Homo sapiens: one gene and its partner. The protein of the gene in region 1 purifies or fractionates together with the protein of each later gene. This does not show direct contact. Each region holds a gene or a part of one and is shown on either strand. Other genes may lie near its edges.

Evidence for each region.
Region 2: the proteins of SYDE1 (region 1) and RPAP2 purify together in Homo sapiens (affinity purification with mass spectrometry; 2 studies listed by BioGRID and IntAct, with this or other methods). This does not show direct contact.

What each region holds. Positions count from the first base shown.
Region 1 is NC_000019.10:15,110,316-15,115,679, reverse strand, and holds the end of SYDE1 (rho GTPase-activating protein SYDE1), read right to left. Parts: coding exon 5,332-5,364; intron 5,160-5,331; coding exon 4,945-5,159; intron 4,368-4,944; coding exon 4,241-4,367; intron 4,049-4,240; coding exon 3,888-4,048; intron 3,335-3,887; coding exon 3,109-3,334; intron 2,121-3,108; coding exon 1,717-2,120; 3' UTR 706-1,716; downstream 1-705. Other genes in the region: HACL2 (2-hydroxyacyl-CoA lyase 2), read left to right, coding at 9-114, 250-428. UniProt on the Homo sapiens protein: GTPase activator for the Rho-type GTPases. As a GCM1 downstream effector, it is involved in placental development and positively regulates trophoblast cells migration.
Region 2 is NC_000001.11:92,392,819-92,400,108, forward strand, and holds part of RPAP2 (putative RNA polymerase II subunit B1 CTD phosphatase RPAP2), read left to right. Parts: 3' UTR 1-7,290.

The DNA of each region.
Region 1 (5,364 bases):
TCCTGTAGATCCCAGTGATGGCCTTGGTAGGGAATGATGCTGGCTGGACACAGATTTCTCGGGAGCAGGTGCCCTCTCTGGGCAGCAACGTGGCCTGTGGCCTGGCCTACACTGGTGAGGGGGCCTCAGCGAGGTTGGGAGGACAGGAGGCTGTTTCAGTCCCAGCTGGGCTTGTGTTCCTCTCCTGGGCTGGCTGCATGTGCGGTGGGCTGAGTCCTTGCCACTATCCGACTTAATCTCTTCTTTTAGATTATCACAAGGCAGCCATGGGTCTGGGGGCCCGGGGCTTGCTGCTCTCACGGGAGAACGAGGATCAGGTGGTCAAGGTGCTGCACGATGCCCAGCAGCAGTGCCGAGACGGCCACCCGGTTGTGGTCAACATCCTCATTGGGAGGACGGACTTCCGCGATGGCTCCATTGCTGTATAGGGCCTTGTGGGTCAGGACGCTTGGCTGCCTTCCTGCCCCTGGACTGTGTCCAGCTGGTTTGGAGTCTCATCATTGCTTGCCCTGGGCCTATCCCATGAGGCCCAGTGACTCCACAACCTCCCTGAGGAGGGGATGGAGGGGTCAAATCTCAGAGAGGCTCTCTTGTGAGCTCTTGGACCCTCCTCTTCACGGACCCAACTGTGCCGTTTGTCCCCTCTCTTATGGAGACTGAATAAACCACCTCTGGCCCATGTAGGCCCAAGTACTCAGTCTCAGAACCTGTGCATATTTATTTATTATCCACAAAGATGGAGGTGCGGAAAAGAAGAGGGAGACAGGAGGGAACCGTACTCTCCCACTGGAACTCTGGGGCCCACTGAGGCACCATTATTGGGGATTTCAGGGTGGCTGGGCACTGCAAACTGCTCCCTCCTCTGTGGTCCCTGAAAGAGCCCCACACGCCTGCTTCAGACGTGTCCACGCACACCAGTCCTCACAGACACACACACACATGCATGGAGGCAATAAATATGTTCCGTACCAGACTGCCCCCAGCCTGACGCTTCAGGGGGCCCCCTCCAAAAGGGAGGGGTTTAAGTGCTCAATTTTTTTCGGGGGGGGGGGCAAGGGGGGGGCAAGGAGATGGGGATTGGAAAGGCCAGACTCTGTTATCTCCATTTGCTGACTAGAGGCCAATCGTGGGGACTTCCCCGGAAAAGGGTAGGGGAAACCAGCTGTTTCTCTATAAGCCCCAGGCTACCCCTGTGTCCATGCTGGAACCCAGGATAGGGGCTGCCCCCCACAAACAGTGCCTCATGCTAGTCTTTGTGTCGTCCAAGGGAGGGAGAAACAGTGCAGTGCTCAAAGCTAATACTGATTTGGTTGGCAGCAGCAAGAGGGCCGACTAGAGGTGACTCACCACACCAGGGTGATGCTCACAGTAACTGGTGTTGCCCCGGCCAAGGGGAGGCAAGAGAGGCCAGCCTAGCAAGCGCGAGAACTACCTTTTTGGCAACAAAAGGGGAAGCCCTTGGTGCTCAGGAAAGATGGTCACAACCGCTGGTCCCTAAAATCCCCAGGCCCCAGACTTGGCAACTAGTGTCCAAATACCGGGCCCTGGAAACTGGGAATGAGTCTCAGCCATACACGCGACTGGTCCCGTGGTAACTCGCTGGCAACCAGGAGCTCGGCCTGAGCAACAGGTCTGGCTCTCCTTGGTCACCAGGGCACCGCCTTAGCCACTGGGCGCCCGGTCCTTACTAACCGGGGTCCCACCCCGTCATCTGGCTCAGAGGCACACGTTGATTTGCTTGGAGAGCTCTCTCTCCAGATCCAGGATGAGGGCGTCGAAGTCTTTGAGATTCAGGTGCGGGTTGAAGGGCGCATCGAAGTCGTCTTCGAAGTCACCGGTGACCCTCGGCTCGCCGACCTCCTCGTCCTCGTCCTCGCTGTCACTGCCCGTCACGTGGTCGTAGTCTGGCCCGGACAGGAAATCCCGCCCACAGGGCAGGAAGTCCCGCCCGCAAACGCTCCAGTCGCCGGCGTAGCGGTTGCTCGGGGGGCTTTCGGGGCCTCCTCGACCGCGGGGCCGAGTCACCACTTCGGGGTCTGCCAGCGGCAGGTGCAGAGGTGGCTGTCGTTTGGGTCGCAAGTAAGGCGCGACATCTGGAGATTGTCGGGGCAGGCGGGGATCTGAAGGGAGACAGGGTAGGTCATAGAAAGAGGCGACAGCCGACCTCTGATTGGCTGCTTAGGGAACTAGGCTCCTGATTGGCCTGTGGAAAGCGGCCTTCGACCCTTTCAGGTTTTCACTGGCAGAGCTAGGACTGGTTGCTTACGCAACTAGGCCTCTGATTGGCATGTCAAGAGGCAGGGCCTCTGACTGCATCAAAGATGGGTAGGGGCAGGTCTGTGGATCATGCCTGGATCATGCCTGTAATCCCAGCACTTTGGGAGGCCTGAGGCAGGCGGATCACTTGAGGTCAGGAGTTCAAGACCAGCCTGGCCAACACCGTGAAGCCCCATCTCCACTAAAAATACAAAAATTAGCTAGGATTGGTAGTGCATGCCTGTAATCCCAGCACTTTGAGAGGCCTGAAATGGGTGGATCACTTGAGGTCAGGAGTTCAAGACCAGCCTGGCCAACACAGTGAAACCCTGCTCTACTTAAAATATAAAAATTAGCCAGGACTGGTGGTGCGTGCCTATAATCCCAGCTACTCGGGAGGCTGAGGTGGGAGAATCCCTTGAACCTGGGAGGCAGAGGTTGCAGTGAGCTGAGATCATGCCACCACACCCCAGCCTGGGCTAGAGAGCAAGACTCCATCTCAAAAAAAATAAAAAATAAAAATAAAAAGATGAATCAGCTCTGTGGGGCAAGGTGATTTGGTTTATAATCCCAGTACTTTGGGAGGCTGAGGCGGAAGGATGGCTTGAGATCATGCGTTTGAGACCAGCTTGGGCAATATAGAGAAACCCTGTCTTTACAAAAAAATGAAAATAAAAAAAGACAAAACAGACAGATTGGTTGGATCTGAACTGGTTGCTGAGGCAACCAGGTACCAGTTTACTCCATGAGGGGGCGTAGCTTCAAGCCTAAGACACTGATTGGTCCCTTAAGGTGGCATCACTGTAGCAGCCTGGCTCAGATTGGTGGTGCAGGCCCTGGGCATGAACTCACCTGGCCAAGACTGCAGCAGGTAGTGCAGCACCTCGATGTGGTGCTTGAAGTCCACTGCACTGGCAAGGCCTGGGCCGGAGCTGCGGGCACGAGGCCTTGTGGGCGCCTGGCGTGCCGGCAGCAGCACAGGCCCGAAGCACACGGCCAAGTTCTGTGGGGTCATGCGGTTGTAGGCATGGAAGGAGGAGACGAGGCGCAGGTGGTCCAGGAGAAGCGTCAGCGTGGCCTGGGAGAGGGTTGAGAGGATGTAAGTCAGACAAAGTCAGGCCCCTGTGGCACCTACCTGCAAGAGACTAAGGTGGCTAGAGTAGGGAAGCAGGTTCACAGTCTCATAGCTGGGATGTGGTCGGGTTAAGACTATTAATCATTAGATGTTAGTATTATGAGCCTATTTTGTTGGAGGGAAGACTGAAGCCAAAGGCAACTAAGCATTGGAAAAGCAGAGCTGCCATGAATCTCATTTTACAGATGAAGATATTGAAGCACAGAGAGGGATGGGACTTGTCTAGGTTCCCTCAGCCAGGAACCTCCCTTGTAGGTTGAAAGATCAGCGTTCAGCCTGCATTTTTGACACATCCTGGCTGTGTGACCTTGGGCAACTGTCACCTGCTTTGGGCCTCAGTTTCCAAATCTATGAAGTGGGATGCTAATAGCACCTATTTCTTGGGGATATGATGATGCTGCCAGCTCATGCCCATCTCAGGCCCAGGCATGGGTGAAACATTCTATTGGTATCAGCCCACTCTCAAGTCCCATCACTCCCACCAGGCCCAACTCACCCTTTCCACATCTGGCAGGCAGCTGAGGAGCCCTCGGGTGCCCTCAGTGGTGGGGGGAACTCTGTTTGGGGGGTCCCGGGCCATGGCCTCCAGTACCACCTTATACAGGGGCTGGGTGATGAGTGGGGTGGGCAACTCTCGAAGATAATCCTTGAGGATGCCTGTGAACACAGGGTCCCCTCTGGTCAGGGCACCACTGGCTTCTAAGGCTAAGGAGGGCACAGCTAAGGGGGAAGAGGAGGTGGGTGAAAGCAAGGTCAGATAGGAGGACTGAGGTCCCAGAGGAGCCCCAAGGCCTTGAAGTGAGGCATTGAATGGGGGTGAGCAGGCAGGGGAGAGGGGGCCATGCTGACCAGTGATGACATTGATATCGGGGTACAGGTCCTCAGATAGGCAGACCGCTGCACTGTCCCGCTCAAAGGCATCCCGAAGCTCTTTCTTCACTGCCGCTGAGCCACAAAGACGGTACAGTCCCACTACCTGGGGGTGGGAAGAGAGAGTGAATGTCTTCTTGCCGGGGCCACAGACTAATCAGGGCCCAGTGGGGTGAGCACTGGAATTCTGGGCCAGGCAGCAATGGGCATTGTGGGCTGGGAGGTTGGAACTACCTTGACAACCTGGCCTTGTAAACCCTCTGCTTGGACTACTTGTCTTGGCTGCCATCTCCTTTGACTTAGGAAACTGACACTTCTTTGAGGAGGCTTTCCATGACTACCCCAGGTTTTGTTTTAAGCTCTCCCAGACCCTAGGTACACCCCACCCCAACTCCAGTCCCAGTTATAGTTTTACATTTGTGAATGACTAGAGTCGTATCTTTTCCCCCATCAGACTCTGAGCCCCAGGAGGGCTTGGATCCTGTTTTTAAATCAATGGATGACCCATGGGTTCTGCCCAGGGTGCTACAGTCAAGGGGGCGCCTTCTGCCCTTGTCTAGGTTGGGATTGGAGCTAGGAGTGGCTCAGGCCTGGGGGTAGGGGTCTGGCATCTGTACATAGGGTGTCCTGAAGAGTGGTCTGAGGTCTGGGGGCCAGAGGGTTGGGGTGGGGTGGGTGCTCACCCGCAGCCCTCGGCGCTCGATCTGCCCAACGCACTTCTGGATGATGAGGGGCACCTGGCCGGGGGGCCGCTCCCGCTCCACCAGCAGTGGCAGGGGCAGCCCAAAGACGCGGGGCTCAGCTGTGGCAGGGGCTTCCTGCTGCTCCGACAGGGTCAGCTTGGCATACAGCAGCCCCTGAGGCTCCAGGCGCACGGCCAGCTGTTGGGCCTGGCACCCTGAGGACACAAGGGGGCCTGAGCCGGGTGTGCTCTGAAGCTTCATGTACCCTGGCCTCGCTGCTCCAGGCCACACCTTCCGCCCGGAGCCCAGCCCCCTAGGCACTCTGCGGGGGGTGGCGGTGGGGTTTGGGGGTCCCTGCCCCTCCTCCCCTGCAGCCGCATGTCCTACCTCGGAAGACCGTGGGCAGCAGCACGGTGCCCT
Region 2 (7,290 bases), on another chromosome or scaffold:
GGAAATAAGAGAGGACACAAACAAATGGAAAAACATTCCATGCTCATGGATAGGAAGAATCAATATCATGACAATGGCCTTGTTGCCCAAACTGATTTATAGATTCAATGCTATCCCCATCAAGCTACCACTAACTTTCTTCACAGAATTGGAAAAAACTACTTTAAGATTCATATGGAACCAAAAAAGAGCCCACCTAGCCAAGACAATCCTGGGCAAGAAGAACAAAGCTGGAGGCATCACACTACCTGACTTCAAACTTTACTACAAGCCTACAGTAACCAAAACAGCATGGCACTGGTACAAAAACAGATATGCAGACGAATGGAACAGAATGGAGGCCTCAGAAATAACACCACACGTCTACCACCATCTGATCTTTGACAAACCTGACACACACAAGCAATGGGGAAAAGATTCCCTATTTAATAAATGGTGTTGGGAAAACGGGCTAGCCATATGCAGAAAACTGTAACTGGACCCTTTCCTTACACCTTATACAAAAATCAACTCAAGATGGAACAAAGACTTAAACGTAAGACCTAGGACCATAAAAATCCTAGAAGAAAACCTGGGCAATACCATTCAGGACATAGGCATGGGCAAAGACTTCATGTCTAAAACACCAAAAGCAATGGCAACAAAAGCCAAAATTGACAAATGGGTTCTAATTAAAGAGCTTCTGCACAGCAAAATAAACTATCATCAGAGTGAACAGGCAACCTACAGAATGGGAGAACATTTTTGCAATATATCCATCTGACAAAGGGCTAATATCCAGAATCTACAAAGAACTTAAACAAATTTACAAGAAAAAAGCAAACAACCCCATCAAAAAATGGGCAAAGGATATGAACAGATACTTCTCAAAAGAAGACATTTATGCAGCCAACAGACATATGAAAAAATGCTCATCATCACTAGTCATTAGAGAAATGAAAATCAAAACCACAGTGAGATACCATCTCATGCCAGTTAGAATGGCGATCATTAAAAATCAGGAAACAATAGATGCTGGAGAGGTTGTGGAAAAATTGGAACGCTTTTACACTGTTGGTGGGAGTGCAAATTAGTCCGACCATTGTGGAAGTCAGTGTGACGACTCCTCAAGGATCTAGAACTGGAAATACCATTTGACCCAGCAATCCCACTATTGGGCATATACCCAAAAGATTATAAATCATTCTACAATAAAGACACATGCACACGTATGTTTATTGCTGCACTATTCACAATAGCAAAGATTTGAAACCAACCCAAATGCCCGTCAATGATAGACTGGATTAAGAAAATGTGGCACATGTATACCATGGAATACTATGCAGCCATAAAAAAGGATGAGTTCATGTCCTTTGCAGGGACATGGATAAAGCCGGAAACCATCATTCTCAGCAAACTATCACAAGATCAGAAAACCAAACAACGCATGTTCTCACTCATAAGTGGGAGTTAAACAATGAGAACACATGGACACAGGGAGGGTAACATCACACACCAGGGCCTGTGGGGGGTGGGGGGCTAAGGGAGGGATAACATTAGGAGAAATACCTAATGTAGGTGACAGGTTGGTGGGTGCAGCAAACCACCATGGCATGTGTATACCTATGTAACAAAACTACATGTTCTGCACATGTAACCCAGAACTTAAAGTATAATAAAAAAAATAATTATTAAATTTTAAAAAACTAGCCAGGCATGGTGCTGCACACCTGTAGTCCCAGCTACTTGAGAGGCTACATTGGGAGGATTGCCTGAGCTTGGGAGGTTGAGGCTGCAGTTAGCTGTGACTGTGCCAGTGCACTCCAGCCTGGGCAACAGAGCAAGACCCTGTCTCAAAAAAAGAAAAAGAAAAATTCAGAGAGATTAAAGAAGGTATCAAGAAATGTAGACACAATCCATGTTCATGAATTGGAAGATCAAATGTTGTTAAGATAGCAGTTCTCCCCAAATTAATCTACAATGCAATCCCTATCAAAATCACAGCAGGCTTTTTTGAAAAATTGACAAGCCAATCTTAAAATCTGTATGAAAACATAAAGGATTCAGAATAGCCAAAATAATTCTGAAAATGAAGAAATAATTCTGATCCAGAACTTACTACAAAGCTACATTAATCAAGACAGTGTGGTACTGATATAAAGATAGGCATACAGATCAGTGGAACAGAGTCCAGGAATAAACCTTCACATTTATGATCAATTAAGTTTTGACAAAAATCCCAATGAAATTATGGAGAAAAGATGGTCTTTTCAACAAATAGTGCTAGGATATTTGGATATCAAATGCAGAAGAAATTAATTTAGATTCTTACCTCCTACCATATGCAAAAATAAACTCAAAATTGATCACACACCTACATGTAAGAGCTAAAACTATAAAACATGTAGAAGAAAACATGGGAGAAAACCTAGATGACCTTGGTTTAGGAAGAATTCTTAAGACACTAATAGCACAATTCATAAAAGAAAATATTAATAAATTGGACTTCATTAAAATATAAAATTTTGTTTCAAAAAACTATTAAGAAAATTAATTGGCCCGGGGAGGTGGTTCACATCTGAAATCCCTGCACTTTCGGAAGCCAAGGAGGGTGGACCACTTGAGCTCAGGAATTTGAGACCAGACTGGACAACAGAGCAAAATGCCATCTCCACAAAAAATACAAAAATTAACCAGGCATGGTGGCGTGCTCCTGTAGTCCTGGCTACTCAGAAGGCTGAGGTGGGAGGATCTCTTGACCCTGGGAGGCAGAGGTTGCAGTGAGCCAAGATCACACCACCGCACTAGAGCCTGGGTGACAGAGTGAGACCCTGTCTCAAAAAAAAAAAAAAAAAAAAAAATTAATTGAAAAATCACAGACTGGGAGAAAATATTTTCAAACCATAATAAGTATCTGATAGAGGACTTGTATCTAGACTATGTAAAGAATTCTTAAAACTCAAAAATAAGGCAGACAACTTAAAAATGGACAAAATGTTTGAATAGATATTTCAGCAAAGATATACAAATTGCTTAGCATATGAAGAGATGTGTACTATCACTAGTCATTAGGAAAATACAAGTTAAAAGCAAAATTAGATACCATTTTGGACCCACTAAAATGACTATAATAAAAAAGACAGACAAAGATATGTGTTGGTGATGATGTGGAGAAACTGGAGCCCTAATGCATTGCTGGTGGGAATGTAAAATGGTGCAGCCACTTTGGAAAACAGTTTGGCAGTTTCTTAAAAAGATAAACATAAGTTTACCATATGATCCTGCTATTCCATGAGAAGAGAAGTGGAAATGTGTTCACATCAAGACTCGTAGGCAAATGTTCATAGCATTATCATTCATATTAGTCAAAAAGTGGAAACCAAATGACCATCAACTACTGGATTTTTTTTTTTTTTTTAAGAGATGAGGCCTCACTATGTTGCATACTCTGAAGTCAAACTCCTGGGCTCAAACAATCCTCCTGCCTCAGCCTCCTCAGTAACTGGGACTGCAGGCAGGCACCAACATACCCAGATTATTTCTTTTTCTTTTTTTTTTTAACTGGTGGATTTCTTTAAATGATATATGTATACAATGGAGTAGTGATATAGGCTACAATATGGATGCATCTCAAAACATTATGCTTAGTGAAAGAAGTCTGATGCAATATCCCACATATGGTATGTTTCCATTTACAGTCCAGAAAAGGCATATACTAAATTAGCAGTTGCATGGGTCTGATGTGAAAACATGGATTGCCTGCAGATGGGCACAAGGGATCTTTTGGGGGTGACAAAAATGTTCCAAAACTAAGTTGTAATTTTTGCACAACTTTTATGTGTGTGTGTGTGTGTGTGTGTGAGATGGAGTTTCACTCTTGTTGCCCAGGCTGGAGTGCAATGGCGCGATCTCAGCTCACCACAACCTCCGCCTCCTGGGTTGAAGCATTTCTCCTGCCTCAGCTTCCTGAGTAGCTGGGATTACAGGCATGTGCCACCATGCCCGGCTAATTTTGTATTTTTAGTAGAGACAGGTTTTCTCCAGGTTGGTCAGGCTGGTCTCGAACTCCTGACCTCAGGTGATCCTCCTGCCTCGGCCTCCCAAAGCGCTGGGATTACAGGCGTGAGCCACCACACCCAGCCATTTTTGCACAACTTTATAAACTTTAAAAATAATTGATTTATGCACTTAAAACAGGTAAAGTTTATGTGTATAAATTATACCTTAATAAAGCTATTAAAAGTCAAAGATTATAACAGGGCCTCTCTCTCTCTGACCTAGTGACCTAGGGTAAAGAGAAAAAGAAGCTAGCCAGGCACAGGGGCTCACACCTGTAATCCCAGCACTTTGGGAAGCCAAGATGGGCTGATTGCTTGAGTCCAGGAGTTTGAGACCAACTTGGGCAACATAGCAAAACCCTGTCTCCACCAAAAATAAAAAAAATTAGCCAGGCATGGCGGTGTATGCCTGGAGTCCCAGCTACTCAGGAGTCAGAGGTGGGAGGATCACTTGAGCCCAGGAGGCAGAGGTTGTAGGGAGCCAAGATTGCACCACTGCACTCCAGCCTGGGTGACAGAGCAAGACACTGTCTCAAAAATTAAAAATTAAAAAATGAGGGAAGCTGCTGTATCTCCACTTCTTCCCTCTCTGTGCCCAGAGATATCTCTTCAGTTATCTCACATGCCCTACAAGTCTAGAGACCTCAGGTGAGGAGCCAGTAGCTCAGTATAGAAACTAAGGATCCAAGTGGACAACTGCCACCAAGTCACCACAGGGCCAGCTGCTTTGGGAGGGTGCTGCATCTGCCTCCCATACACTTCTGCCAAGTTTATGTTAGTTTGGGAGGACTGAAGCAGAATTCAGTTCAAAGTACTGTGCTGGATTTTGGTTTCTAAATATTTTCCAATAGAAAAGAACCCAGGCTTCTTGAGAAAATAGCTAGGTTCTAAGGCTAGAGCCAAAAAAATGCAAGATAAGCCTGGAGCATCTTGTAGTACCAGAAACTAAGCAAGTGCTCAAAAACAAAAGGATAGAAGCATGTCAGACAGACACAGGAGCCAATCTGAAAGAGCTCCCTGGCCGGGCACGGTGGCTCACGCCTGTAATCCCAGCACTTTGGGAGACTGAGGTGGGAGGATGACTTGAGCCCAGGAGTTTGAGACCAGCCTGGGCAACATAGGGAGACCCCATCTCTACAAAAAAGTAAACAATTAGCCGGGCATGGTGGCACACGCCTATAGTCCCAGCTACTCAGGAGGGTGAAGATCACCTGAGACCAGGCGGTCAAGGCTTCAGTGAGCCATGATTGTGGCACTGCACTCCAGCCTAGGCAATAGAGTGAGACTGTCTCAAAAAATAAAATTTTAAAATAACTGAAGAGTATAACTGGATTGTTTGTAACACAAAGGATAAGTGCTTAAGATGATGGAAACCCTATTTATCCTGATGTGATTATTACACATTGCATGCCTGTACCAAAATATTTCATGTAACCCATAAATATATACATCTACTATGTACCCACAAAAATTAAAAAATGTTTACAGGAGTGAACCACCGCACCTGGCCAGTGGAGTCTTTTTAAGGTATTATTTAGCATCTTCTGCTTATAGTCATGTCCAAAAACCAGTTGATCTTCCTACTCATTAGGGGACAAGATCAATTCTCTAAAAAATTAACCTAGCCCAAGGTAAGTGGTACTATTCTGAAATCTGAAAATCTTTAGTAGCCTCACATTATAAGCCCTTCGTAGAAAAAGAAAAGTAAGCATTTCTAGAAGCACATTTTTGTTGGACTGAGGGTGGGGCAAGGAGCAGGGGTGACTTTCATCTGAAATGTACCTAGGCAGGCCAGAGTCTGAGTTAGGACTGGCTCCTGGGACTTTGCCATCCAGGCCAAGAAGCATGCTCCAGTGTGCATGCACTCTCATCAAAGCCCTAGTCAGGAATCCCAGCCACTCCTCTCCTGTGCAGCACAAGCTGAAGGATAAGGTGTGGGGCAGTGACTGCGTGGGGCTGCCTGTGTGATTCCTGATAAAGAAATGCCTTCATGAAATGTATTGTTCCCCAATAAAGCTCATTTTCTGTGAGAATTCATGTGTCCTTTTCCAAATTAAACTAGCAAAATATGAACTTTTGTAAAAGGTCCACACCCAGCCAGTTTTCTACTCTCTAAATGTTCAGGCCTTTGCCTGTCCTTCCCTCAGCAAAAATACTGTGTTTTGGAAAACATTACCAATAAAGGAGCTGGGAGGTGGAATTGGATCAAAATACCTTTAGATGAAAGCAGCAGCACAAGCCATTCCCTTTAAATGAGCTGGCCTCACCTCTGGGGCCTATGAAGAAAAGCCTGCTTCAAGGTGATAGTTTTCATTTTGCTTCCCAGCACCTCTGCAGTCATAACCAAAGTGAAGGACAATATTGCATGACTTCAGAAGAAAGCCATCCAGCCACCTTGCAACATGTTCAGGAAATTCTGGACTCCCTTGGGGCTTGCAAAACTCCCTATGTCTTGCAGACCAAAAGCAAGTTCTCAGTCACCTAGCTCTAGTTTGCATAATTAAAGAAAGTGGAAGCTGGTTCTTTTCTGGGTGACCCTTCACCCAACCAAGCTCATAAGGACTTGTGACAAAAATAAGAGCAATAAAATGAAGTTTTAACAGTGAAAACTTCTATCACTTAGATAAGCAGGAAAAGCCAGTCCCCTAGATGCCCATCTGACCCTACCTTACTGGGGTCATACAGCCAAAGCAGTGTCCACTTCAGGTACTGTAATGTTTTGAAGTTGACACATATAATTTAATGTAGTTTCATGTCATAAGTTATAAGACTTTTCAGAGAAACAATTTAGTAATATCTTCTGTAATACCCATCTTCATTTTTTATATGAAAAAGCATAGCCTATGATCTGTCACCTTGCTCACTCCCACATCCTTACCTCTTATCCTTCTCACATCGTCCCATTAACACATTATCCATCTTTGGGGGGAAAAAATACACTAAATTTTAGACAGAGTCACTTTCACTATGGCCACAATGGGAGAAAAGACAGTCCACCTTCAAAGTCAACCAGAATGACTCTTAACCTCTCTTGTCTGGGTTGGGCATCCAGATAAGATTTTCTTCGTACAAAGAGTCTTGCTACTAGGAAAAAGAGTTTGAAAATCACTAGTCTAACTAAATATCTCACTTTAAAAAAAGCACAAACTAAGACTCAATGAGGTTTATCTTCCACAAGATCAGCCAGTTTTAGCAGAGCAGTTGCTAAAACCCAGGTCTCAAACTCCTTGTCTATGGCTCATCTAACTAAGCA